4 linked regions of the Homo sapiens genome follow. The protein of the gene in region 2 purifies or fractionates together with the protein of the main gene of each other region. This does not show direct contact. Each region holds a gene or a part of one and is shown on either strand. Other genes may lie near its edges.

The links.
Region 1: the proteins of CGB2 (region 2) and CYFIP1 purify together in Homo sapiens (affinity purification with mass spectrometry; 2 studies listed by BioGRID and IntAct, with this or other methods). This does not show direct contact.
Region 3: the proteins of CGB2 (region 2) and NCKAP1 purify together in Homo sapiens (affinity purification with mass spectrometry; 2 studies listed by BioGRID and IntAct, with this or other methods). This does not show direct contact.
Region 4: the proteins of CGB2 (region 2) and MTA3 purify together in Homo sapiens (affinity purification with mass spectrometry; 2 studies listed by BioGRID and IntAct, with this or other methods). This does not show direct contact.

The regions. Positions count from the first base shown.
Region 1 is NC_000015.10:22,970,341-22,977,463, reverse strand, and holds part of CYFIP1 (cytoplasmic FMR1-interacting protein 1), read left to right. Parts: intron 1-7,123. UniProt on the Homo sapiens protein: Component of the CYFIP1-EIF4E-FMR1 complex which binds to the mRNA cap and mediates translational repression. In the CYFIP1-EIF4E-FMR1 complex this subunit is an adapter between EIF4E and FMR1.
Region 2 is NC_000019.10:49,027,608-49,033,822, forward strand, and holds CGB2 (choriogonadotropin subunit beta variant 2 isoform 1 precursor), read left to right. Parts: upstream 1-4,282; 5' UTR 4,283-4,488; coding exon 4,489-4,497; exon of another isoform or gene 4,498-4,663; intron 4,664-4,896; coding exon 4,897-5,064; intron 5,065-5,299; coding exon 5,300-5,614; 3' UTR 5,615-5,631; downstream 5,632-6,215.
Region 3 is NC_000002.12:183,028,376-183,035,498, reverse strand, and holds part of NCKAP1 (nck-associated protein 1), read left to right. Parts: intron 1-7,123. UniProt on the Homo sapiens protein: Part of the WAVE complex that regulates lamellipodia formation. The WAVE complex regulates actin filament reorganization via its interaction with the Arp2/3 complex. Actin remodeling activity is regulated by RAC1.
Region 4 is NC_000002.12:42,753,510-42,757,447, forward strand, and holds the end of MTA3 (metastasis-associated protein MTA3), read left to right. Parts: 3' UTR 1-3,437; downstream 3,438-3,938. UniProt on the Homo sapiens protein: Acts as a component of the histone deacetylase NuRD complex which participates in the remodeling of chromatin.

The sequences.
Region 1 (7,123 bases), on a different chromosome or scaffold from region 2:
GAGGCCATTGATAAAGCATGGATTAATTACACTGACATAATTTAAAAACCTTATTTTAGCCAGTGCAATAGTATCAGACAAAGAAAGAAAAGGCATACAAATTGGAAAGGGAAAATTGTCCCTATTTGCTGACAACATGATTATCTACATAGAAAATCCAGGGAATCTATGAAAAAGCTACTAGAACTAATTAATGAGGTTAGCAAGGTCACAAGATACAAAGTCAACACACAGAAGGCGACCTTATTTTTCTTTTTTTTTTTTGAGACAGAGTTTCATTCTTGTTGCCCAGGCTAGAGTGCAATGGTGCGATCTCGGCCCACCGCAACCTCTGCCTCCCGGGTTCAAGCGATTCTCCTGCCTCAGCCTCCCGAGTAGCTGGGATTACAGGCATGTGCCACCATGTCTGGCTAATTTTGTGTTTTTAGTAGAGATGGGGTTTCTCCGTGTTGGTCAGGCTGGTCTGGAACTCCCAACCTCAGGTGATCCGCCTGCCTCGGCCTCCCAAAGTGCTAGGATTATAGGCGTGAGCCACCGGGCCCGGCCTGGCGACCTTATTTCTGCATACAGCAGTGCCCCTTATCCATGGGGAGATACATGCAAAGTCAACACTATACAAGCTGACCTTATTTCTGTTTACAACAGTCCTTGTTATCCATGGACGATACGTTCCAATGGAAGCCTGAAACCTGAGATAAGACAGAACCCTCCGTGTACTGTGGTTTTTTTCCCTATACATCTATGCCTATGATAAAGCTTAATTTACAAATTAGGCGCAGTAAGAGATTACCAACAATAACTGTTCATAATATAGAATAATTATATACTGAATAAAAGTTATATAAATGTGTTCTCTCTTTCAAAATATCTTTTTGTATGCACTCACCTATTTTTGGAGGGCAGTTGACTGTAGGCAGCTATAACTGGGGAAACAGAAATTGCAGATAATGAAACTACAGGTAAGTGGGGACTACTGTACTAGCAATGTACAATTAGAAAGTTAAATTTGGCTGGGCGTGGTTGCTCACGCCTGTAATCCCAGCACTTTGGGAGGCCGAGGCGGGCGGATCACAAGGGCAGGAGTTCGAGACCAGCCTGGCCAACATAGTGAAACCCTGTCTCTACTAAAAATACAAAAATTAGTTGGGCATGGTGGCGTGCGCCTGTAGTCCCAGCTACTCAGGAGGCTGAAGCAGGAGAATCGCCTGAACCCGGGAGGCGGAGGTTGTGGTGAGCCGAGATCGCGCCACTGCAGTCCAGCCTGGGCAACAGAGCGAGACTCCGTCTCAAAAAAAAAAAAAGAAAATTAAATTTAAAAACACAACATTTCGTTTGCTTCAAAGGAATCAAATACTTAGGTATACATTGAATAAGACTTACAGGATCTGTATGCTGAAGATGAGAGAAATCAAAGATCATTTAAGTAAATGGGGGAACATACCATGGTCAGTGGTTGGAACACTCAACATAGTAAAGACATCAGTTCTCTTCATATTGATCTATAAATTTAACCCAATTCCAATTTAAAAATATTAGCATGCTTTAAAAACAAAAATTTTAAACAAAAATTTTGTTTATTGAGGTATAATATACCTACTTTATAAAATTCACCTACTTTTAAGTATACGTTTGGCTGGCCTGTGAACGAGGGGGTTAGGGATTCCAACCCCCTGTGCAGTTGAAAATCCGAGTGTAACTTTTTTTGAGATGGAGTTTCGCTCTTATTGCCCAGGATAGAGTGCAATGGCACGATCTTGGCACACTGCAACCTCTGCCTCCTGGGTTTAAGCCATTCTCCTGCCTCAGCCTCCCAAGTAGCTTGGATTACAGGCATGCGCCACCACTCCCACTAATTTTGTATTTTTAGTAGAGAGGGGGTTTCACTGTGTTGGTCAGGCTGATCTCGACCTCCTGACCTCAGGTGATCTGCCCGCCTCTGCCTCTGCCTCCCAGAGTGCTGGGATTACAGGCGTTAGCCACCGAGCCTGGCCTTTAACCTTTTTTTTTTTTTTTTTTTTTTTTGAGACGGAGTCTCGCTCTGTCTCGGCTCACTGCAAGCTCTGCCTCCCGGGTTCAAGCGATTCTCCTGCCTCGGCCTCCTGAGTAGCTGAGATTACAGGCACCCGCCACCATGCCTGGCTAATTTTATATTTTTAGTAGAGATGGGATTTCACCATGTTGGCCAGGCTGGACAAGTATAACTTTTGACTTCTCAAAAGTTAAAACTACGTGACTTCCCAAAAGTTAAAACTACGAATAGCCTGCTATTGACCAGAAACCTTACTGATAACATAAACAGTTGATTAACAGAGATTTTGTAAGTTATATGTATTACATACTGTGTTCTCATAATAAAGTAAGCTAGAGAAAAGAAAATGTTGTTAAGAAAATCATGAGGAAGAGGAAATAAACTGACTACTCATCACGTGGAAGTGGATCATCAGAAAGGTCTCCATCCTCAAAAAGCTCACAGTGAGCAGGCCAAGGAGGAGGAAGTGGATGGGTTGGTTTTGCTGTCTTGGGGGTGGCAAAGGCAGAAGTGGAGGGAGGTGGAAGGAGGGGCTAGAGAGGCAGGCATACACCGTGTAACTTTTACTGGAAAAAGTCTGCAAATAAGTGGACCCGCATGGTTCAAACACGTGTTGTTTCAGGGACAACTATACAATAATTTTTAGAAGATTTCTGGAGCTGTGCAACAACCATCACCATAATCCAGTTTTTGTTTGTTTGTTTTGAGACAGGGTCTCACTCTGTCACCCAGGCTGGAGTGCAGTGGTGTGATCTCAGCTTACTGCAACCTCCGCCTCCTGGGTTCCAGTGATTCTCATGCCTCAGCTTCCCAAGTACCTGGGATTACAGGAGGTGCCACCAAGCCTGACTAATTTTTTTGCATTTTTAGTAGAGGAAGGGGTTTCACCGTGTTGGCCAGGCTGGTCTCGAACTCCTGGCCTCAAGTGATTCATCTGCCTCGGCCTCCCAGTACTGGGATTATAGGCATGAGCCATCGTGTCCGGCCTGTTTTTGTTTTTTTAATTTTAATTATTTTTTAAATGGAGATGGGGTATCACTATGTTGCCCAGGCTGGTCTTGAACTTCTGGGCTGGAGCAATCCTCCTTTCCTCCTGAAAGTGCTAGGATTACAGATGTGAGCCACCAGGCCCGGCCTTGCTCATCTGTTGATGGACAGTTAGGTTGATTCCATGTCTTGGCTGTTGTGAAAGGTGCTGCAATAAACATGGGGTACAGCGATCTCTTGGACATACGGATTTCATTTCTTTTAGATATATACCCAACAGTGGTGTTGCTGGGTCATATGGTAGTTCTATTTTTAATATTTTGAGGAACCCCCGGCACTGTTTTCTACAATGGCTATACTGATTTACATCTCCACCAACAGTGTACAAGGGTTTCCCTTTCTCCACACCCTGGACAACACTTGTTATCTTTTGCCTTTTTGACAAGAGCCAGTCTGACAGGTGTGAGGTGATAGCTCATTGTGGTTTTGATTTGGATTCCCTGATGATTAGCGATGTTGAGCATTTTTTCATACACCTGTTGGCCACTTGTACACCTTCTTTTGAGAAATATCCATTCAGATCTTTTACAATTGAGTTGTTTGAATTCTTTGTATATTTTCATTATTAATCCCTTATTAGTTATATGGTTTGCAGATATTTTCCTGCATTCTGTAGATTGTCACTTTGTTGATTGATTCCTTTGCTGTGCAGAACATTTTTAGTTTGATGTAATCCCATTTGTCTATTTTTTCTTTTGTGGCCTTTGCTTTTGAGGCTTTATTTCCTCAAAATAAGCCAGGCACAGAAAGACAAGTACTGCACGATCTCACTCACATGTGGAATCTGAAAACGCTGATGCCACAGAAGAACAGAGCAGAATGGTGGTTACCAGAGGCTGGGGTGGCTGGCGGAAGGGGAGAGAGGAAGATGTTGGTCAAAGGATACACATTTACAGTTAGATACAAGGGGGAAAGTCCAGAATAGGCAAATATACAGAGACAGAGAGTAGACAGGTGATTGCCTGGGGCCAGAAAGCAGGGGAGAGAGGATCAGTGAAGAACGGGTAGAAAAAGTGAGAATAACTGCTAATGGTTAGGGAGTTTCTTCTCCCTTTTTTTTTTTTTTTTTTTTTTTTGACAAGGTCTCGTTCTGTCACCCAGGCTGGAATGCAGTGGGGCAATCATGGCTTACTGCAGCCTTGCCCTTTTGGGCTTAAGCAATTCTCCCACCTCAGCCTCTCCAGTACCTGGCACTACAGGTGTGCACCATCATGCCTGGCTAAATTTTGGTTGGTTGTTGTTTTGTTTTTTTGAGACGGAGTCTCACTCTGTCGCCCAGGTTGGAGAGCAGTGGCGCGATCTTGGCTCACTGCAACCTCTGTCTCCCAGGTTCAAACGATTCTCCTGTCTCAGCCTCCTGAGTAGCTGGGATTACAGGTGTGCACCACCATGCCCGGCTAATTTTTGTATTTTTAGTGGAGGCAGGGTTTCACCATGTTGGCCAGGCTAGTCTCAAACTCCTTACCTCAAGTGATCCTCCTGCCTCAGCCTCCCAAAGTGTTGGGATTACAGGTGTGAGCCACCGCCTAATTTTTGTGTTTTTTTGTAGAAATAAGGTTTCACCATGTTGCTCAGACTGGTCTCAAACTCCTGAGCTCAGGTGATCCCCCTGCCTGGGCTTCGCAGGGATTATAGGCTAAGCCACCGCACCTGGCCACATTTAAGTCTTTAATTCATTTCGGGTTGATTTTTGTCTATGTTGAGAAGCCAAGGTCTGATATTATTTTTCTGTATGTGTGTATCTAGTTTTCTCAACACCGTTTATTGAAGAACCTATCCTTTTCTCATTGTGTGTTCTTGGCACCTTTGTTAAAAATCAGTTGGCTGCAAATGCATGCATTTATTTCCAGGCTCTATTCTGTTCCATTGGTTTATGTGTCTGTGTTTATGACAATAGTGTGCTGTTTGGGTTACTATATCTCTGTAGTTTTTTTTGTTTTGTTTTGTTTTTGAGACGGAGTCTCACTCTGTCACCCAGGCTGGAGTGCAATGGCGCAATCTTGGATCACTGCAACCTCCGCCTCCCGGGTTCAAGCGATTCTCCTGCCTCAGCCTCCTGAGTAGCTGGGGATTACAGGCGTGCGCCACCACACCCAGCTAATTTTTTTGTTTTTAGCAGAGACGGTGTTTCACCATGTTGGCCAGGCTGGTCTCGAACTCCTGCCCTCAGGTGATCCGCCCACCTCAGCCTCCCAAAGTGCTGGGATTACAGGCGGGAGCCACCATGCCCAGCCTCTGTAGTATATTCTGAAGTCAGGTAGTGTGATGCCTCCAGCCTTGTTCTTTTGCTCAGGATAGCTTTTGCTATTCCAAGTCTTTTGTGGTTCCACACAAATTTTAGGATTTCTTTTTCTATTTGCATGAAGAATATGGTAGGTATTTTGATAGAGACTGCATTGAATCTGTAGATTGCATTGAATCTGTAGATTGCTTTGAATCTGTAGATTGCATTGAACCTGTAGATTGCATTGAATTTGTAGATTGCTTTGGGTACTATCTATTGTTTATTTATTTTTTGAGATGAGTTACCTAGGCTGTTACCCAGGCTGGAGTTCAGTGGTGCAGTCATGGCTCACTGCAGCTTTGATATCCTGGGCTCAAGCGATCCTCCCACTTCAGCCTCCTGAGTGTCTGGGACTACAGGTGTGAGCCACCACGTGCAGCTACTTTTTATTTTATTTCTTTTCTTTTTCTTTTTTCTTTTTTTTTTTGAGACAGAGTTTTGGTCTTGTTGCTCAGGCTAGAGTGCAATGGCGCAATCTTGGCTCACCGCAACCTCTGCCTCCCGTGTTCAAGCAGTTCTCCTGCCTCAGCCTCAAGCTACTCAAGCTGGGATTACAGGCGCCCACTACCACGCCTGGCTAATTTTGTATTTTTAGCAGAGATAGGGTTTCTGCATGGTGGTCAGGCTGGTCTGGAACTCCTGACCTCAAGCGATCTGCCTGCCTTGGCCTCCCAAAGTGCTGGGATTACAGGCATGAGCCATCACGCCCAGCCTTATTTTATTTTTTAGTAGAGACAAGGTCTAGCTGTGTTGCCCAGGCTAGTCTTGAACTCTTGAGCTCAAGTGATCCTCCCACCTCATCCTCACAAAGTGTTGGGATTACAGATGTGAGCAACAGCACCTGGTCTATTAATTCTGTTGTTGCCAGTGTTTTTGGTGTCATATCCAAGAAATCATTGCCAAATCTGATGTCATGAAGCATTTCTCCTGTTTTCTTCTAAGAGTTTTATAGTTTTAGATCCGATGTTTAGGCGTTGATCTGTTTTGAATTAACTTTTCTTTTTTGTGTGTGTGTTTGGTTTTTTTTCGAGACAGATCCTTGCTCTGTCGCCCAGGCTGGAGTGCGGTGGCGCAATCTCGGCTCACTGCAAGCTCCGCCTCCCGGGTTCAAGCGATTCTCCTGCCTCAGCCTCTCTAGGAGCTGGGATTACAGGCCCCCGCCACCACACCCAGCTAATTTTTTGTATTTTTAGTAGAGACGGGATTTCACCGTGTTAGCCAGGATGGTCTCGATCTCTTGACCTTGTGATCTGCCCGACTCGGCCTCCCAAAGTGCTGGGATTACAGGAGTGAGCCACCACGCCAGGCCAAATTAACTTTTCTGTATATTATATAAGGTAATGGTCCAACATAATTCATGTATGTGTGGATATTCAGTTTTCCTAACACAATTTGTTGAAAAGACTATTCTTTTTCCATTGAATGATCTTGACATCATTGTTGAAAATTGTTTGGCCACATATGTGAAGGTTTATGTCTGGGTTCTTTGTTCTGTTTAATTGGCCAGTATGCCTTTCTTTATGCCAGTGCCACACTGTTTCAATTACTGTAGCTTTATGGTAAGTTTTGAAATAAAAAGGAGTGAAGTCTCCAACTTTGTTCATCTTTTTCAAGATTGCTTTGGCTATTCTGGGTCCTTGGAGATTCCTATGAATTTTAAAATGGGTTATTTTTGCAAAAACAAAGTGCTGTTGGAATTTTCAAAGGGATTGCATTGAGTCTTTAGAAGGCTTTGGATTGTATTGTCATCTTAACAATATTAT
Region 2 (6,215 bases):
CCCACCACTATGCCTGGCTAATTTGTTGTATTTTTTAGTAGAGACGGGGTTTCCCCGTGTTAGCCAGGATGGTCTTGATCTCCTGACCTTGTGATCTGCCTGCCTCGGCCTCCCAAAGTGCTGGGATTACAGGCATGAGCCACTGCACCCGGCCCAATTTTTTTTTTTTTTTTTTTGAGACAGAGCCTCACTCTGTCTGGCCAGGCTGGAGTACAGTGGCACAATCCTGGCTCACTGTAGCGCCTGCCTCCTGGGTTCAAGTGACTCTCCTGCCTCAGCCTTCTGAGTAACTGGAATTACAAGCGCCTGCCACCGTGCCCTGCTAATTTTTGTATTTTTAGTAGAGATGCAGTTTCACAACATTGGCCAGACTGGTCTCAAACTCCCAACCTCCAGTGATACTCCTGCCCTGGCCTCCCAGAGTGCTGGGATTATAGGCCTGAGAAACCACGCCTGGCCCCAAACAAATTGCTTTAAGACGAGGTCTCCCTATGTTTCCCCACTGCACTTGAACTCCTGGGCTCAAGCCATCCTCCTGCTGTGGCTCCTGAGTAGCTGGGACTACAGACTCAAGCCACCACGCCTGGCCACATTCCACAATTTAGAGAAAGTGCACAACCTGGAATCCTAGGGAGACCCCGATTCACCTCAAAACTGCCACTAAGGAGGTAAAACGCTGCCCCTCTGAGGCAGGCTTCAGTTTCCCTGTGTGTGAAATTGACCTGGCGCTGGGAGAGGCTGGTGGAGGCGCGGATTTTGCAGTTTCCCTACAACATTCTGGAAGCCTGTGGTTCTGGGAAAGGTTGGCGTGGAGAAGACTGGGAAACAACCAGTGGTCACCAGAGCTGTAGCACCTCCTCCACCTCCGAGCTCTGGGGCTGGGAACCCCAGGCTTCGGGGCCCCTGTGGAGGACGCAGGTGGCCCCCTCTTTCCTGACATCTCAGGAGAGGGAGGGGCAACCGGCTAGCAGAAGAAAAGCACAGGAAGGTTATACAGCCAGGTGGGGAAGGGGCCAAATCCCTGAACAACCCCTTCCCAGAGTTCCTCTTCAAGTGCAGGGTACCCAAGAGTCAAGGCCCCGCCCCCTTTCCAGAGGCCCCTTTTCTACCCAGGTGATGGGTCCTAGCTGGGATGGGAGGCAGATGGACGGAGGGGAGGGGGGAGGAGGGGAAGGGAGAGGCAGTGGATGAAGGAGGATGGAAGAGATGACATCCCCCTCGGCCCATTCATCCCATTCAGGTCCCCAAGCCGCGCCCCTCTCCGCCCCACCTGCACTGCCAGTGCCAACATCAGAGGGAGGAAGAGGGAGCTCGGCTTAGAAGGCTGAGGCCCTGCCACCTGGGCCACACCGATCACGTGGCCTTCCTTCTCCCCACAGAAGGCCAGACCATGGACACCTCCTGAGCTGGAGGTCATCCTGCATCTCCACCCTGTTTTCTTTTTCTTTCTTTCTTTCTTTTTTTTTTTTTTTTTGAGATGGAGTCTCGCTCTGTCGTGGAGGCTGGAGTGCAGTGGCGCGATCTCTGCTCACTGCAAGCTCCCCCTCCTAGGTTCACTCCATTCTCCTGCCTCAGCCTTCCAAGTAGCTTGGACTACAGGGGCCCGCGACCAAGCCCAGATAAGTTTTTGTATTTTTAGTAGAGACGGGGTTTCACCGTGTTAGCCAGGAAGGTCTCGATCCCCTGACCACATGATCCGCCCGCCTGGGCCTCCCAAAGTGGTGGGATTACAGGAGCGCAGCACCACGCCCAGCTAATTTTGGTATTAACAGTAGAGATGTTGTTTCACAGTGTTGGCCAGGCTGCTTTTGAACTCCTGACCTCAAGTCAAACACCCGCCTCAGCCTCCCAAAGTGCTGGGACCACAGGTGTGAGCCATAGTGCCTGACCTGTAGTTGTTGAATATTTATTATTAATCTACAAGTTGGGTGTGATGCAAGTCCCATACATGGAGTCCCCCAAACTTCTAGAGCAAGGGCTTCCCCATAATCCTGGCAGGCAGGCCTCCCCTGGGGTTCCCAACTTCTGACCTCACTGAAGTGTTTATCCTCTTCTCTAATCCCAGCCTCCTTTTCCCTGTTTCCATGTCCTCTGAGAGATGCTCCCGCTCCCCCAGGCTCCCTCTGCATCCCCCTCATTTGCTTCCTCCCCAGTGTGTCAATGGAGTCCTAACCCCCACCCTTGACATTGTCCCCTTTTCCTCCTCCAGAGTGGGACCTTATTTTCCCCCAAGTGGTCCTGTCTAGGGGTGCCGCTGCCGGGCCCCCTCTGGTCTTCCTGCTGGAGACTGGGGCCTTTTGGGAGTCAGCAGGCACCCGGGCCAACCGCAGCCAGCGAGGGGTGAGCGATACTTCACCGGCGAGTCATCAGGGTGAGCTGGCCGTGTGCGATGCAGTCAGTGTCTGGGTGACAGACCCCCGGACCGCTGTGGACTTGGTTGTGCTCGAGGTGGAGGTGTTGGGTGAGGTGCCTGCAGCTGGCAGCAGTTCCCTCCACCAACACTTCTTTGTCACCTGCTTCAAGGCCGATAACTCTGAAGAAGGTGGCCCAGGGGTAGGTGGAGGGGCTGCCGCTGGGGTGTGGACCGGGGGGCACTGGGTGTCTGAGTGCAAGGCCAAGCAGTCCTATGTGCGGGCATTGACCGCTGATGCCCAGGGCCGTGTGGACTGGCGATGGATTCAAACTGGCACAGCCTGTGTCTGCACACTCCTCAGCCGGACTGGCCGGGCCTGAGACTTATACCCAGGAACTGGTCAGGCAGAAAAAGAACAGAGCTGGATGCTGAGAGACCTCAGGGTTGGCCCAGCTGCTCTACGGACGGACCCCAGTTGGGGAACTCATCAAATCATCGCAAAATCACAACTCTCTGAATTTGAGCTCAATCTCTGTAGGATGGGTGCAACAACGTGGGGTTTTGAAGGTTGAATAGGAGCTCTCCCAGGGGAACTTGAGGGTAATCATGATGATGATGATAATAATAATAGCCACTATTTACTGAGTGTTTACTCTTTCGTAGCCCTAATACATAACTCCTCGGATCAACTCTCATGGATTTGATCATTGGTGACCTTTGGTGTTAAGTTGCTGACTGCTCAGTCACAGAGGACACCACCTTGCTCATCCTGGGGAGTGGGAGGGCACATTTCACGATGTGCATGGGGGAGGAGGGAAACTGGAACATGCAAGCAGATGGCCAGGGGACCTTGAGGACATGGTCTACAGAAGGCCTTTAAGTATCTGGGAGCTGGGGTTCAAATGAGAAATCTTACTTGGTGAGAGTGGGCAGGGGTCGGCTTAGAATATTTTGTTTTGAGATAAAGAGCTACCGATCACACGGGGAGTATAAGCAAGGTTCAATGAGAAGTGATCAGGATGCTGGAGAGTTCAGCCCTGGGCGGGGAGCTCAAGTCAGGTTTCTAGCCCTCTTCCCTGTGCCAACCTATACCCTACACTGGGAAAGAAACAGACCTTAAAATTGTCCAGCTTGATGGCATCGCGGGGAAGGGACTAAGTCCAGATAATGTCCTCTGAGGCTGAGGCCTCGGGGGCAGGACACACCTCCTGCGGGCCTATTCAATAATCAGTTAAATCACCTGAAGCACACGCATTTCCGGGGACCGCTCCGGGCATCCTGGCTTGAGGGTAGAGTGGGCAGAGGTCCCTAAGGGAGAGGTGGGGCTCGGGCTGAATCCCTCGTTGGCGGCACCAGGGTCAAGTGGCTAACCTGGCAGCACAGTCACGGGGAGGCCCTCTCTCATTGGGCAGAAACTAAGTCCGAAGCCGCGCCCCTCCTGGGCGAGGAGGTTCCACCTCCTAGGTTCCTGTGATTCTCCTGCCTCAGCCCGAGTAGTGGGACATCCCACTTGCTCCCGCCATTCTGTTTACCACAGGTGACGACCGCCATGGCTGACAGGCAGGGAGGTCCCCCGAGGACCGAGCAAGCCTCGGTCTCCCAAAAAAAAAAAAGATACATTGAAGTAATTTAAAAACACTTAGGAAGATGTCATTTCTTCCTATCAAGGCGTCCTCCCTTTATGTTTTGTTATTATATAGGGAACGATAAAAAAATTTTTTTCTCAACCAATGTGGACCCGGTTGGCCTCGAACTCGTACCCTCGAACCCTCCCCTCCCTGAGGGCCCGAGGGCACGCGCAACCGGTCGGAGCCACAATAGCTCGGGGTGTCGGGGATCTCCTTTCTTCCTTTTGACCTTACGCAGGGTGATGGAGCCAATCAGGAGAGGCTCACCCCTGACGTCACCCAGTCCCCAGGGCCAGTGAGGGCCCTGCGTTCCGTGGCGCCCCCTGGAGGGAGGAAGGGGAACTGTATCTGAGAGAGAGCAGCCAATTGGGTCCGCTGACTCCGGCCGGGTTCCCGTGCCGCGTCCAACACCCCTCACTCCCTGTCTCACTCCCCCACGGAGACTCAATTTACTTTCCATGTCCACATCCCCAGTGCTTGCGGAAGATATCCCGCTAAGAGAGAGACATGTCAAAGGTAGGGTAGATCGACATTTCCAGGCACCAAAGATGGAGATGTTCCAGGAAAGACTGCAGGGCCCCTGGGCACCTTCCACCTGCTTCCAGGCCATCACTGGCATGAGAAGGGGCAGACCAGTGTGAGCTGTGGAAGGAGGCCTCTTTCTGGAGGAGCGTGACCCCCAGTAAGCTTCAGGTGGGGCAGTTCCTGAGGGTGGGGATCTAAAATGTTGGGGTATCTGAGATCCTCTGGGCTGTGGGGTGGGCTCTGAAAGGCAGGTGTCCGGGTGGTGGGTCCTGAATAGGAGATGCCACGAAGGGTCTCTGGGTCTTTGTGGGTGGTGTACCACGCGGGATGGGAAGGCCAGGACTCGGGGCTGCGGTCTCAGACCCGGGTGAAGCAGTGTCCTTGTCCCAGGGGCTGCTGCTGTTGCTGCTGCTGAGCATGGGCGGGACATGGGCATCCAAGGAGCCGCTTCGGCCACGGTGCCGCCCCATCAATGCCACCCTGGCTGTGGAGAAGGAGGGCTGCCCCGTGTGCATCACCGTCAACACCACCATCTGTGCCGGCTACTGCCCCACCATGGTGAGCTGCCCGGGGCCGGGGCAGGTGCTGCCACCTCAGGGCCAGACCCACAGAGGCAGCGGGGGAGGAAGGGTGGTCTGCCTCTCTGGTCAGGGGCTGCGGAATGGGGTGTGGGAGGGCAGGAACAGAGGGCTTCCTGGACCCCTGAGTCTGAGACCTGTGGGGGCAGCTGGGGAGCTCAGCTGAGGCGCTGGCCCCAGGCACATGCTCATTCTCCCACTCACACGGCTTCCAGACCCGCGTGCTGCAGGGGGTCCTGCCGGCCCTGCCTCAGGTGGTGTGCAACTACCGCGATGTGCGCTTCGAGTCCATCCGGCTCCCTGGCTGCCCGCGCGGCGTGAACCCCGTGGTCTCCTACGCCGTGGCTCTCAGCTGTCAATGTGCACTCTGCCGCCGCAGCACCACTGACTGCGGGGGTCCCAAGGACCACCCCTTGACCTGTGATGACCCCCGCTTCCAGGCCTCCTCTTCCTCAAAGGCCCCTCCCCCCAGCCTTCCAAGCCCATCCCGACTCCCGGGGCCCTCAGACACCCCGATCCTCCCACAATAAAGGCTTCTCAATCCGCACTCTGGCGGTGTCTTTCTGTGGGCTCAGGGCAACCACACACACAGGGTGGGTCCAGCTTCCAAACCATTTTATACAGAGTCACAGTACAGAACTCTGGTAGAAAACAGGGTGGACGGCTGGGCGTGGTGGCTCACGCCTGTAATCCCACCACTTTGGGAGGCCGAGGCAGGCGGATCATGAGGTCAGGAGATCGAGACCATCCTGGCTAACACGGTGAAACCCCGTCTCTACTAAAAATACGAAAAGTTATCCGGGCTTGGTGGCGGGCGCTTGCAGGAGAATGCAGTGAACCTGGGAGCGGGAGGTTGCAGTGAGCAGAGATCGCGCCACTGCACTCCAGCCTGCACGACAGAGCGAGACTCCATCTCAAAAAAAAAAAAAAAAGAAAGAAAGAAAGAAAAAGAAAAGAGGGTGGAGATGGGGGATGACATCCAGCTCAGGAGGTGTCCATGGTCTGGCCTTCCGTGGGGAGAAGGAAGGCCACACGATTGGTGTGGCCCAGGGGGCAGGGCCTCAGCATTCTAAGCCGAGCTCCCTCTTCCACCCTCTGAGGTTGGCACTGGCAGTCCAGGTGGGGGCTTGG
Region 3 (7,123 bases), on a different chromosome or scaffold from region 2:
AATCAATTATCACATTTTCATTAATGCATGTGCATTAGATTGTCTACCAGATCTAATTACTCTGTTTCAATTGGAAGTATACAGTGGAAATGATATTTTAGTGAACATATACAATGAAAAATAGTTAAGTAAAATAACTTATTATTGTCAGTAATATGCTTTGGCGCTTATTAGGGAAGTTGGAGCATGATTACTGAAGAATGTTTTTTTTTTTTAATTTCATCAGTCAAAAATTTTGAGATCTTAATATTTACAATTTATGGGAATTTTAGGGAACTTGTAGTTTGACGGAGGATGTAGGAACACATAAAAGCGGATTTTAGGGAAAAGACTTGAAGGTTGTTGGTAGCTTTACATTTAAATTTATTTGTTGCTTAATTCCTTTTTTTTTGTTTTTAAATATATGGTTTCCCTTTTGCAGACCTAATAATGTGACTCACTCATGTAGAGATTTGTAACATTTTTAAAGGTTCCAGCATGGCAACTTGTGTGGTGGTGGGATTAAGAGCACTGGGCCAGAAGTTAAGAGACTTGCATTCCAATCTTCATTCTGTCACTGAGAGTTCTCTAACATTGGTTAGTAATTTGACTTTCTTGAGCTTCACTTTTCCTCATCTGTAAAATGGGGAAAATTAACTGTAAAAGGAACACTAAAGTCTATTCCAGCTCTATCTTTATGATTTTATGGTGAAGTAGTAGAGTAGAAATTATGTTTCATTTTAAACAATAACTGAACTCAGTTTAGTTTTCTGTAATGTAGGGAGCATAATGCCTGCCCTACATACTTCACAGAATTGCTTCTGAAGGTAGAGGATGGTAATATGTGAAAATAGTATTTAGGAATCTGAGCATCTCTTTTGGGCAACATTGTTTTTCTGAAATTGTATAACTGTTCAACAAAACTGCCAAATACCCAAAGAAAACATTTTGCTCAGTTAAATTTTTGTGTGTGTGGTTTACTCTCTTCTTTTTTTCCTTCTCCTTTCTTTTCCTCCACCATTACCAACATGAGATTAATCTCTGTATTAAAAAGATCTTAGTTAATACTTGCGTCTTTTCCTCCTGTTAAATTTCTGCCTGTACTGTAAAGGTCAGAGAATGAGAAAAAAAAAAAAACCCATACAACTATTACAAACTTTTTAAAGTGGAGTATTGTGGTGGTTTAAATGCAGTTTTACTTCTTTAAAAACATTAGAGGAATATTTTTCTTTTTTTCCCTATCCTTTTCTCATTATTTTGGATAAATTTATTTTCTAAGGAAAAGTTTAACAGGACTAGCATTGTAAAATTGAAAGTCTTTAGCCAGTATCTGCTTATTTAGTGGGGGAAGAAAAGATGTTTGTGAAGGGAGCAGTGCAGGGTAAAGGGAGGGGAACTGGTTTTAGTCTTCCCTTTCAGTATTGTATTTGTTTCCACTTAGGGTGTTATTTTCTCTTTTGGTCAATCAGATGCAGAAGCGTGTTCCAGAGATGCTTAGGAAAATAATTATTTTTAATTTTTAAGTAGCAATGATAAATAATCCATCTTTTGTTTCCTTTATGGAATTGTTAAGTAACTTTAAAATTTTTTAATGATTACCAGAGGAATATATGTTTATTGTCAAAAACTCAAACATAACATAAATGAGTGACTTCAAAAATTCACTGTCTGCCCATCTTTATAACTTTATAAGCTACTGAATTGTTAGTTTGTAAGTAGGGTTGTATATGTGCCAGTTTGAAATGATTCTCTTGTTTTAAGTAGAAGAACCCATACTGGAAAATGCTTTGTTATTGCATAGTTGACTATTTTAGATAGTAATAAAATTGCATCTTTAAAACTGTTTTATAAGCCATCATATGAGCTATTCTTTCAGTTACTCTCAAATATTGAGGTTTTCCCTTTTAATTTATTCATTTACTCTTCGTTTATTGAATGTGTTCCCTGGCATGAGGGAAATAGAGGTAAATTAAGATGAAGTCTCTAGTGCCAAGAAATTAGTGTCTTAGTGGGGAGAGAGATGTATAGATATTTAACTAAAATGCAGTGTGTAAGTAGGATTGTCGGAGTCTTGAGAAGGGAATTAAGGATTATAATCTGGGAGAGATGGTAAAGAGGAGAGTCACATTTGTACTTGGTTTTGAAGTATGAATAGAAACTTCAGGCAGCCAGTGACAGAAACTAACTAGTTACTATTTCAGATTGCAGAGTTTTTATTCAGTAGGATATACAGAGGGTCCCCAACTTGTGATGGTTTGACTTAACAATTTGTTGACTTCTTGTTGGCACAAAAGCTATGGCATGCAGTAGGAAGTGGTATGATACTTTCTTGTGATCTGATACTCTGCAGTGTACTGTATTACCAGATAATTTACTCAACTGTAGTCTAATGTAAGTGTTTAAGGTAGGCTAGGCTAAACTATGATGTTAGGTAGGTTAGGTGTGTTAAATGCATTTCTTCTCTTTTTTTGGAGACAGGGTCTAGCTCTGTCATACAAGCTGGAGTACAATGGCACGATCTCAGCTCACTGCAGCCTCTGCCTCCTGGCTCAGGCGATCCTCCCACCTCAGCCTTCTGAGTAGCTGGGACTATAGGCACATGCCACCATGCCAGGCTAATTTTTGTATTTTTTTTGATAGAGTTGGGGTTTCACCGTGTTGCCCAGGCTGGTCTCTGTCTCCTGGGGTCGAGCAATCCACTCGCTTCAGCCTGCCAAAGTACTGGGATTACAGGTGTAAGCTACCGCACCTGGCTGATTTATGATATTTTCAATTAAAGATAGGTTTATTGGAATGTAACCCTATTGTTAAGTTGAGGAGCATCTGTATAAAGATAACAAAATACAGTCATTCTGCATAATGATATTTCACATAACACTGAAATGATGGACTGCCTATACACAGTAGTCCCATAAGATAACACTGTATTCTTACTGTTTTTTTTTATGTTTAGATACATTTAGATACAAAAATACATACCATTATGTTGCAATTGCCTGCAGTATTCTCATTGTACGGGTTTGTAGCATGAAAGCAGTAGGCTATATCCCATGTACCCTGGGTGTATAGTAGGCTATACCATCTAGGTTTATGTAAGTACGCTCTGATGTTCACACAATGATGAAATCATCTGATGACATTAAGCAATGCATGACTGTGTTAGAGTATAAAATAGTAATGCTCTTCTTGCAGGCATATAACCTCTAAACTTCACTTATTTTCTAAACATTTTCCGTACTTGCAGAATATTCTGTGAGTTGAGAGAGCTAGATTCTAGATAATGCTCTGATACTTTTTTTTTAGTTTGAACAAGTTATTTAACATTTCTGGGCTGTAGGTTACTTACAAAGTGAGGAGATCAGTGGTTCCTAGCCAGGGATACATAATAGAATCCTCTTGGAAGGTTTTTCCAAATTCCATACATCTGGATCCTGACCCAAACTTAACTTGAACAGAAAAAAATCCCTGAAATTGTTCCAATGTTAACTACTGAAATAACTGAAATGTAAATTCTTAAATACCTGTAATTTCTTTTCCTGCTAATTATTAACTGTGGTGATTTAATTTAGTTGTCTGGGTTATAACTAAATTTCTGGAAGGCTGCACATTGGCTGTCTACTAGCAAAACCAGCTCCATGGTACTTATTTGCTCTCAGCTTCTGTTATGCTTCAAGCTGTATTTTTTGGCTTTCTAAGCCTTGCTAGTCTTATTGATTCTAACTCTTGTAATCTTAAATAGATATTCCAGTTATCTCACGTTTTTGGAATACGCTTTTATTAACCTCATAGGTTAAGAGGAGAATTAAATGAGTGAATCCATAGGAAGTATTGGTACAGTGCCTTGTAGCAAGCGTAAGAGCTGAGGAAATGGTGGCTGTTGTTACTAGTTCTATTTCTGGGGCTTGGAACATAGTGGACACTTAATAAATGTTCATTCCCCCCCACCCCCAGATTAAATTAAGCTCAAGACTACCTTTTAGGAAACATTCCTCACTATTCTATTTTACTGCCTGATACAGTTTGACATCTACTTACTGCTAAGACAGAATAATTATTTGTATTTCAGAAGTATGTGTTCCACAGTAGTCCTTTAAATAACAATTTCTTTTTAACCGCAAAGGTATGACAATATATATACTTTAAAAAACTGCAAAAACACCTTTGCTTCATAAACTGAGATGATCCTGTATATTGGAAGCTGAAAACTGTTTAAAGGCAACAGTGACATATATATCTTCTTGTAAATGGAATGGTAATTAATAACTCATTTGAATCACTAAATTTTTTTCTTTTTTTTGAATCACTAATTTTGAAGTGTATAATGGGTTGAAGTTTTTCAAGTTCATGACTTTCTCAGAACTTGTGTCTAAAGGACAATAACTGTGATTTCTATATTTTTAGATCTCAATTATTGGCTCCAATTAAGAGGTAGTTATTGATAAAATTACATTAATTTGAAAGCATTTCCAATAATTTCAGTATACTTTGTTATCAAGCCTCTTAATCCAAGTTACTAGCAGTAGATTGCTCTCTTTTCTTTTTACCTACCTAAGAGGGAAAGTGCTAACTTAAAGCAGATCGGTTGGCCAAAATATACATCATAACACAGGAGGAAAAAAATAATCGGAAAGCTAACTACTGATGAATTTGAGTCTTATTTTGCTCTTGATATAAAGTTTTCCAGTACTTATGGACAATTTTCATACTGTAATATTTTCATTATTTAAAAAATTGGAACATAAAATAATCATAGGTATATATTACTTTTACATTCCATAATTTCAGGTAACGTCTATTCTTCCTCTAGGTATTAATTTCAATTTGTTGAAAACTCAGGGAAGAATCTTTGTCCCTTTATTCCTTCAATTTTGCAAAACGTGTGGTGTTTCTTGGTTATTAAGTCAAATTCCTCTTTCGAGTCTAAATTGGCCACATTTTGTATTTTTCTCCTCATCCTTGACATTATTCAGATGGGGCTGGTTTCTGTGCCCTCACGAATAGCATTCTCACTCTGACTCCTGAGATCTTGTTCATATTTTTTCAGTTAATTCATTGTACTAGAAAATCATTTTGTTCTTCCCTATTTTGGCATTTTTCCAATTATTGTACTAGAAAATAATTGTTCTTCCATATTTTAGCAAAGGAATGTGTTTTATTCCTGAGTTAGAATAGAAATTAAAAAATAAAACTGAAGCTAGGCACAGTAGTAGTGCGTGCTTGTAATCCCAGGTACTTAGGAGGCTGAGGCAGAAGGATCTCTTGAGACCAGGAGTTCAAGTCCAGCCTGGGCAATATAGCAAGATGCTGTCTCAAAAAAATAAAATGGATTGAACTGATCAGATTTTTACCGTGATAGCAACTGCTTCCTGAGGTTTTAAGCAGCGGAGGTTTTGAATAAGTGGAGCATGTTTTTAAACATTATTTTTGGGAGGGGACATATATTTTTAGATAGTGTTTTGGAATCAGGTATGAATTTCTCTGTAGGTCCTGTCAGTAGTTGTGAAATCTTGATCAAGTTACTTAATTTTTCAGAAGCTCCTTTCCTTTCTGTTGAGTGATAATTTAGATAATTTCTAAAGCATAGGTGTTTTGCACACAATAATTGCACAGTAAATGTTCTTTTTACTTCCAACATCTTTTGTATCTTGATTATTTTGTTGTTTTTTTTCCTTCTCTCTCTTTTTTTTTTTTTTTTTTTCGAGTCAGGGTCTCACTCTTGCCTAGGCTGGAGTTTGCAGTGGTTGTGAACAGGGCTCACTGTAGACTCAACCTCCCTGGCTCAAGCAGTCCTTCCATCTTAGCCTCCCAGGTAGCTGGGACCACAGATATTTACCACCACGTTTGGCTAATTTTTAAACATTTTGTAGAGACAGGGTCTCCCTCTTGCCCAAGGTGGTCTCAAACTTGTGGGCTCCAGCAATTCTCCTGCCTTGGCCTCCGCAAGTGCTGGGATTGCAGGTGTGAGCTACTGAGCAGTCTTTTTTTTTTGGTGTCTTGATTGTTGCTTAATCTCTTGTGAATAGATAGAGGAATTTTAAAAATCTGTATTTTTTTTTTTTGGCATCATGGTAAGTTCTTGGAAAAATAGTAACATTAACCATGTAAAGTTAAGCTGTGGTATGTAATCCTATGCTGTAATAGCTTGAGGAAAGGCCTCAGTATGGGGGTTTGTGGTAGAGTGGCAGAAAGATGTGTTTTAAAGTCATACTTTAAAATGGCATAGGGTCTAGGCTTGATGTTTCTAATCAAAGATGTTTCTTTTGTGGCCCGGATAATATATTGTGTAGTTTTCTGAAACATCCTTGTCCTTCATTTTTACTGATAACATCAGATTTGTGTTTTAAAAGGAACTTAGAGATATTGAATTGACTACTGACCTATAGTTTTTTTTTTGTTTCTTTTGAGACAGAGTTTCACTCTTGTTGCCCAGGCTGGAGTGCAGTGGCGCGATCTTGGCTCACTGCAACCTGCGCCTTCCGGGTTCAAGCGATTCTCCTGCCTCAGCCTCCCGAGTAGCTGGGATTACAGGCGCCAGACCATACCTGGCTATTTTTTTTTTTTTGTATTTTTAGTAGAAACGGGGTTTCACCGTGTTGGCTAGGCTGGTCTTGAACTCCTGACCTCGCGATCTGCCCACCTCGGCCTCCCAAAGTGCTGGGATTACAGGCGTGAGCCACTGAGCCCAGCCTAGAATTGTTTTTATGGAAAATCTTGTTTCCATAATTGAGAACTCACTATGTGTATCCATGTATATAAAGAAGTTTTATTTAAAAAAATATTTGGAACTTATTTATTAACTACATATGTGCCAGGCACCTAAATAAACAGTTTATGTGTATCTTATCTTTTAAATATTTTAACAGTGTACCCTATGCAGTAGGTAGTAATAATATCCTCAATTTATGGGTTAGGTAACTGAGGCTGAGAGGTTAGGCAACTTGCCTAAGGTCATATAGGCTATTATGCACTTGACCCAAGAGACAAGGGTTTTAATTACTATGTTTAAGTGTATCCTTTAACATCACTGTAATTTTATCTGTCACATAAAATAATCCTGACTTTTAAAATATTATAATTAGAATATTCATGGAGAATAAAGTTCCAATTCTGAGAACTGGAAATTTAAGTATATAAATATTTAAAT
Region 4 (3,938 bases), on a different chromosome or scaffold from region 2:
CCTCTGCGTGCATCCATGGAGACGCAATGGGGCGGGGAAGGAACTGTGGGAGTGCACGTTCCAAATCCTGTGTCTCCACGTGTGGATCAGCAGCACCTCGCTTTCTTGTCAGAGACCTCGCTGTTACGGAGCGAGACCTGCTGAGAATTGAGGGGCTGAGGGAACCCCTCCACCTCCTCCCTTCTGCAGCGCCCTGCGCCCCACCCAGCAACAGCGGCCACTTGGCAGTGGGGCTGCTGCAAGCTCAGAGCCGCTGCCACCCTGCATGTGTCCGCTCAGCTCGGTCTTATGCTGTATAGTTACTAAATATGTACAGGAGGGCCATGGCATCTTTCTGAATGGATTTTTCTTAAGAAATGCGCCAGTGTTTATGAGGTTCAAGGTATTTCCCTGTCCTTGCTGTTACCGTCACTCAGCTTTTTCTCGATAGGCTTCATCCTTGTTTTTTTGAAATGGGGGAATTTGCTGTTTACCCTCTGCATTCCTATATGTGACCCTCCCTCCTACTCCTCCAAGGAACAGAATTACCGAGGTTCTGACAAAAGATAAGCCTGTAAACTCATCATCTGTGTTTTGTGGTTGGAGAGAAACTGGTGTTCTGCCCGGCTCTGCTTGGTCACAGACAGCTCCAGCAAGAGCAGTTGTTAAAAGTGCCAAGCGTGTGTATCACTGTGACAAGCCGTTTGCTTACTGCCCTGTTCCCTTGCAGCCAAACCAGCTGATGAAGAACTGCTGCCAGGTGGGTCCTACAGCAGGTCACAAATGACCTAGTTTCATTTTAAGCAGACAGACTCTGTTTGGCCTAGAGGTGTGGAGTGAGAGAACTGTGTTTGTGGGTATGAGTCTGTGTGGCCAACCCCATGACCCCCACCCCTCCAGCCCAACATCTTGTGAGCACATGTGACCTAGGCCCCGGGGGACCTGCCTGCTCCTTTGGCTTGGGCTCTTCGTGTTTCCCACCTGCCCTCGGCACGAGCCCTTGGTGGCATCACAGTTGGCCACTCAGCTGTGCTGAGTAGCTGTGCTACTTGTGCTGGCAGCTGCAAGGATAGGAATAGCTCAGCGCCCGATGAGCTCCCTGAGCAGATGTGAGGCTGGCAACTCCCCTGCCCTCTGTTTGCAGGCACAGGGTCACAGTCCCAAGAAAGACAACTGGAGTCTGATCTCCCAGCCATCTCTGGGGTTACTAGGAGGCAGCTGGATGGCAGATACGAGAGGCCCAAATAGCCAAGCTGTTGCAAGACAGAGTGGCTACAATTGAATTGACACCCTGGGAAGCACGAGGTAACTTGGTAAGGATAATGATGCTGTAGATGTCTGTGTCCTCGGAGGCTGAGCTCCGCTTGGCAGAGAGAGCGTGCTGTGTGAGGTGGAGGGCGGTTTTGCAGACATCTCAGCTTCTTTTCTGAGGAGGAGTTGGTTCTCATCTTAGGCTTCTGCAAGGGCGAGCATGGGATGTCTCCACCACCACCCACTCTTGGAGCTGTGCTGGGTCTTGGCTTGGGGCGCTGAGGGTGGGGCCTGTGTCAGAAGCATTTGGTGAGAGGGGTGGAGGTGGCAGGCAGGGGTTCTCCTCAGGGTTCCCACTGAGGGGTCCCTTCAGCAAAGACCTGGGAGGAGGTGCCGCATCACGTGGATGTTTCTTCCCTAAAGAAAAAGACACAGGAAAGCTGTCTGTCTGTACCCTGCTCTGGATTTATTGTCGTACTTGGACCCAGAAGGGGAAATGATTCCCTCACCCTTTCACTTTCTCTCTGAACCCCTACTAAGTGGTGACTGCAGATTCTGGAAACAATTAGCTGCCCGTGACTCAGCTGCCAGCTTCATTTTCTCTGCCTTTTGGGAGAGGCCCTCTCACCCAGGCCCAAGAGATTTGGAGACAGGAGTCAGGCCAGGTCTGAAGCAGGAGAAGGGAGGCCCCTCCTATCTACCCAGTTGACATTTGGCTTTGGGAAAAGCGCAGCTTGTTCGAGCCACGTGTGCCAAGCAGGCTTTTCCTTCCTCTTGTAAGTAAAGCTCGTGGTTCTGTAGTCCAGTCATCCTAGGAGGGTGATGTTGACTGAGACTTCACGCTCTCCCTTTGTCTCTGGAAACTGCCCCCTCGTTCTGACAGAATCCCCCAGGCAATGGAGGAAGGGTGCCGAGGCGCCTCTAGTCTGTGCCTTTGCCGTTGGAAGCATTTGGTGCTGAGAGGGTTTCCCAGCCACCCGCTCCCTTTCTGGGGCCATGGTGTCCCTGCTGTGTGTCAGTGGCATGTCACTGTGGTTCAGTGAGCACATGGGTGGACGTGCAGAGACTGTCTGCGCAGCCCCCAGCAGACATGCCCCTGGGGTGAGGACACAGGCTCTGCAGGCTATCTCCCCCTCTGGCTCAGTCATCGCCTGCCCACCCTTCACTTCTTAAAGGTGCGCAAGAGAGGAGGGCCGACTGGAGGGTGTCGCCGGAAGGTTTCAGCCTGCCCTTCACAATTCCCCTTGTGCACAGCCCAGTTTCCATCTCTCAGGGCCCACCCAGGAAAATGGATTTCAAGTGGGGGTTTTCATCCAGAGATTTGTTTAACACAAAACAAGAAAAGCTGAGAGGCAAAACAGGGGAGTGAGGGGCAACCCAGAGGTGGGGAACAACAACAGCAAGCCGCCCCCATCCTGAGACTGGCTGGGCACCAGGGGAGGACGCGTCACCAGAGCCTGGGGCCAAGGCCACTGGGGGACCTGCCACACTGTGGACCTGTCTGGTGGGGGCTGGAGCCTCGAGAAGCCATGATTCTTGTCAGAAACATTTCCCCAGGCAGAGAGAGGGGGCCCCAGCCTCTCCCCTCCTCTTGGCCTCCAGAGTCCTGCAGGTGCCTCACAGTAGTGAAACCCAGTTGGAAGCAGCTGCCCTGGGAGCCTGGGACAGGCGACCCACCGGGTCAGTCCCCTGCCACTCAGAGCAGAGCAGGGGGCTGAGGGCAAGCAGGTGGGGCTGTGCGTGGCCTCAGTGCACTCGGTGTCATGTCTGAGCCTGGTGTTTATGCCCCACTGCTGTCCTAAGTCCCTGGCGAGGGGAGGTGGAGGAGCTGCCCCGTGGGTGTTTGGAGATTCTGTTTTACTCTGCCTAGAGAGGAAACGGCTTTGGGGAGGGAGGGGGAAGCCTTTATTCTTTACTGTTGTCCCTGTTTTCCTTTGGGGGAATTTACTCAGTTAGCAGCCCCTCCTCACCATTCCCCCCAGGAAGGCCATGTCCCAGTTTTCTGTCCACCCCTCCTGTTCCTCTGCACTATGTCTCTGATTTTCCCTGCCAGGGAAGCTAACCCAGAGCACGCACCTGTGCTCATGAGTGTTTCCGCAGGATAATTCGTTCTGAGCATGATACCACAGTGTGGATTGTCTGTCTGTAAGGAGATGCCATCTACTAACCAATTTGTATTGTGTTTCCAATAAATTCCTGGAAATTTTGCCTGGTTTTATGCTGTTCTTTACTAGGATGATGGCTCAGGTGTAAGACTGTGCACGCACCCCTAGGCCCAGCCTCAGGTGGTCCTTGTTTCAGAACCTTGAGCTCCGAGGGCCCCGGGGAGGTAATAGGCCAGGCCAGTTGGTCTGCTGTGCCCCAGCTGCACTGAGACTCTCAGAGGCCTTTCCCCAGGGTCTGCATCTTCTTCTGCTGTCTCATAAGCCACATCCTGGGGACATGGAAGTTTCACGAGGCGAGGTCACCCCAGTAGGAGGCCTTTGACCCTGTGCCCCCAGGCCTGGAGGTATGAGGTGTAATAGGCAGCCTTTTTCCCGTGAACTACCCTGCAGTGTGACTTGTGCCCTGCTGTGGCCAGTGCTGGGTTGTGGGGATGGGTGCTGGGGTATTCAGGTGGTGCACTGAGGAAGGCTGCTGTGCCCCAACATGGGGTTTGCTGTTTGGCTGGCTGTTTGTGTGGACTCTGTCTCAGCTGCTGTGCCAAG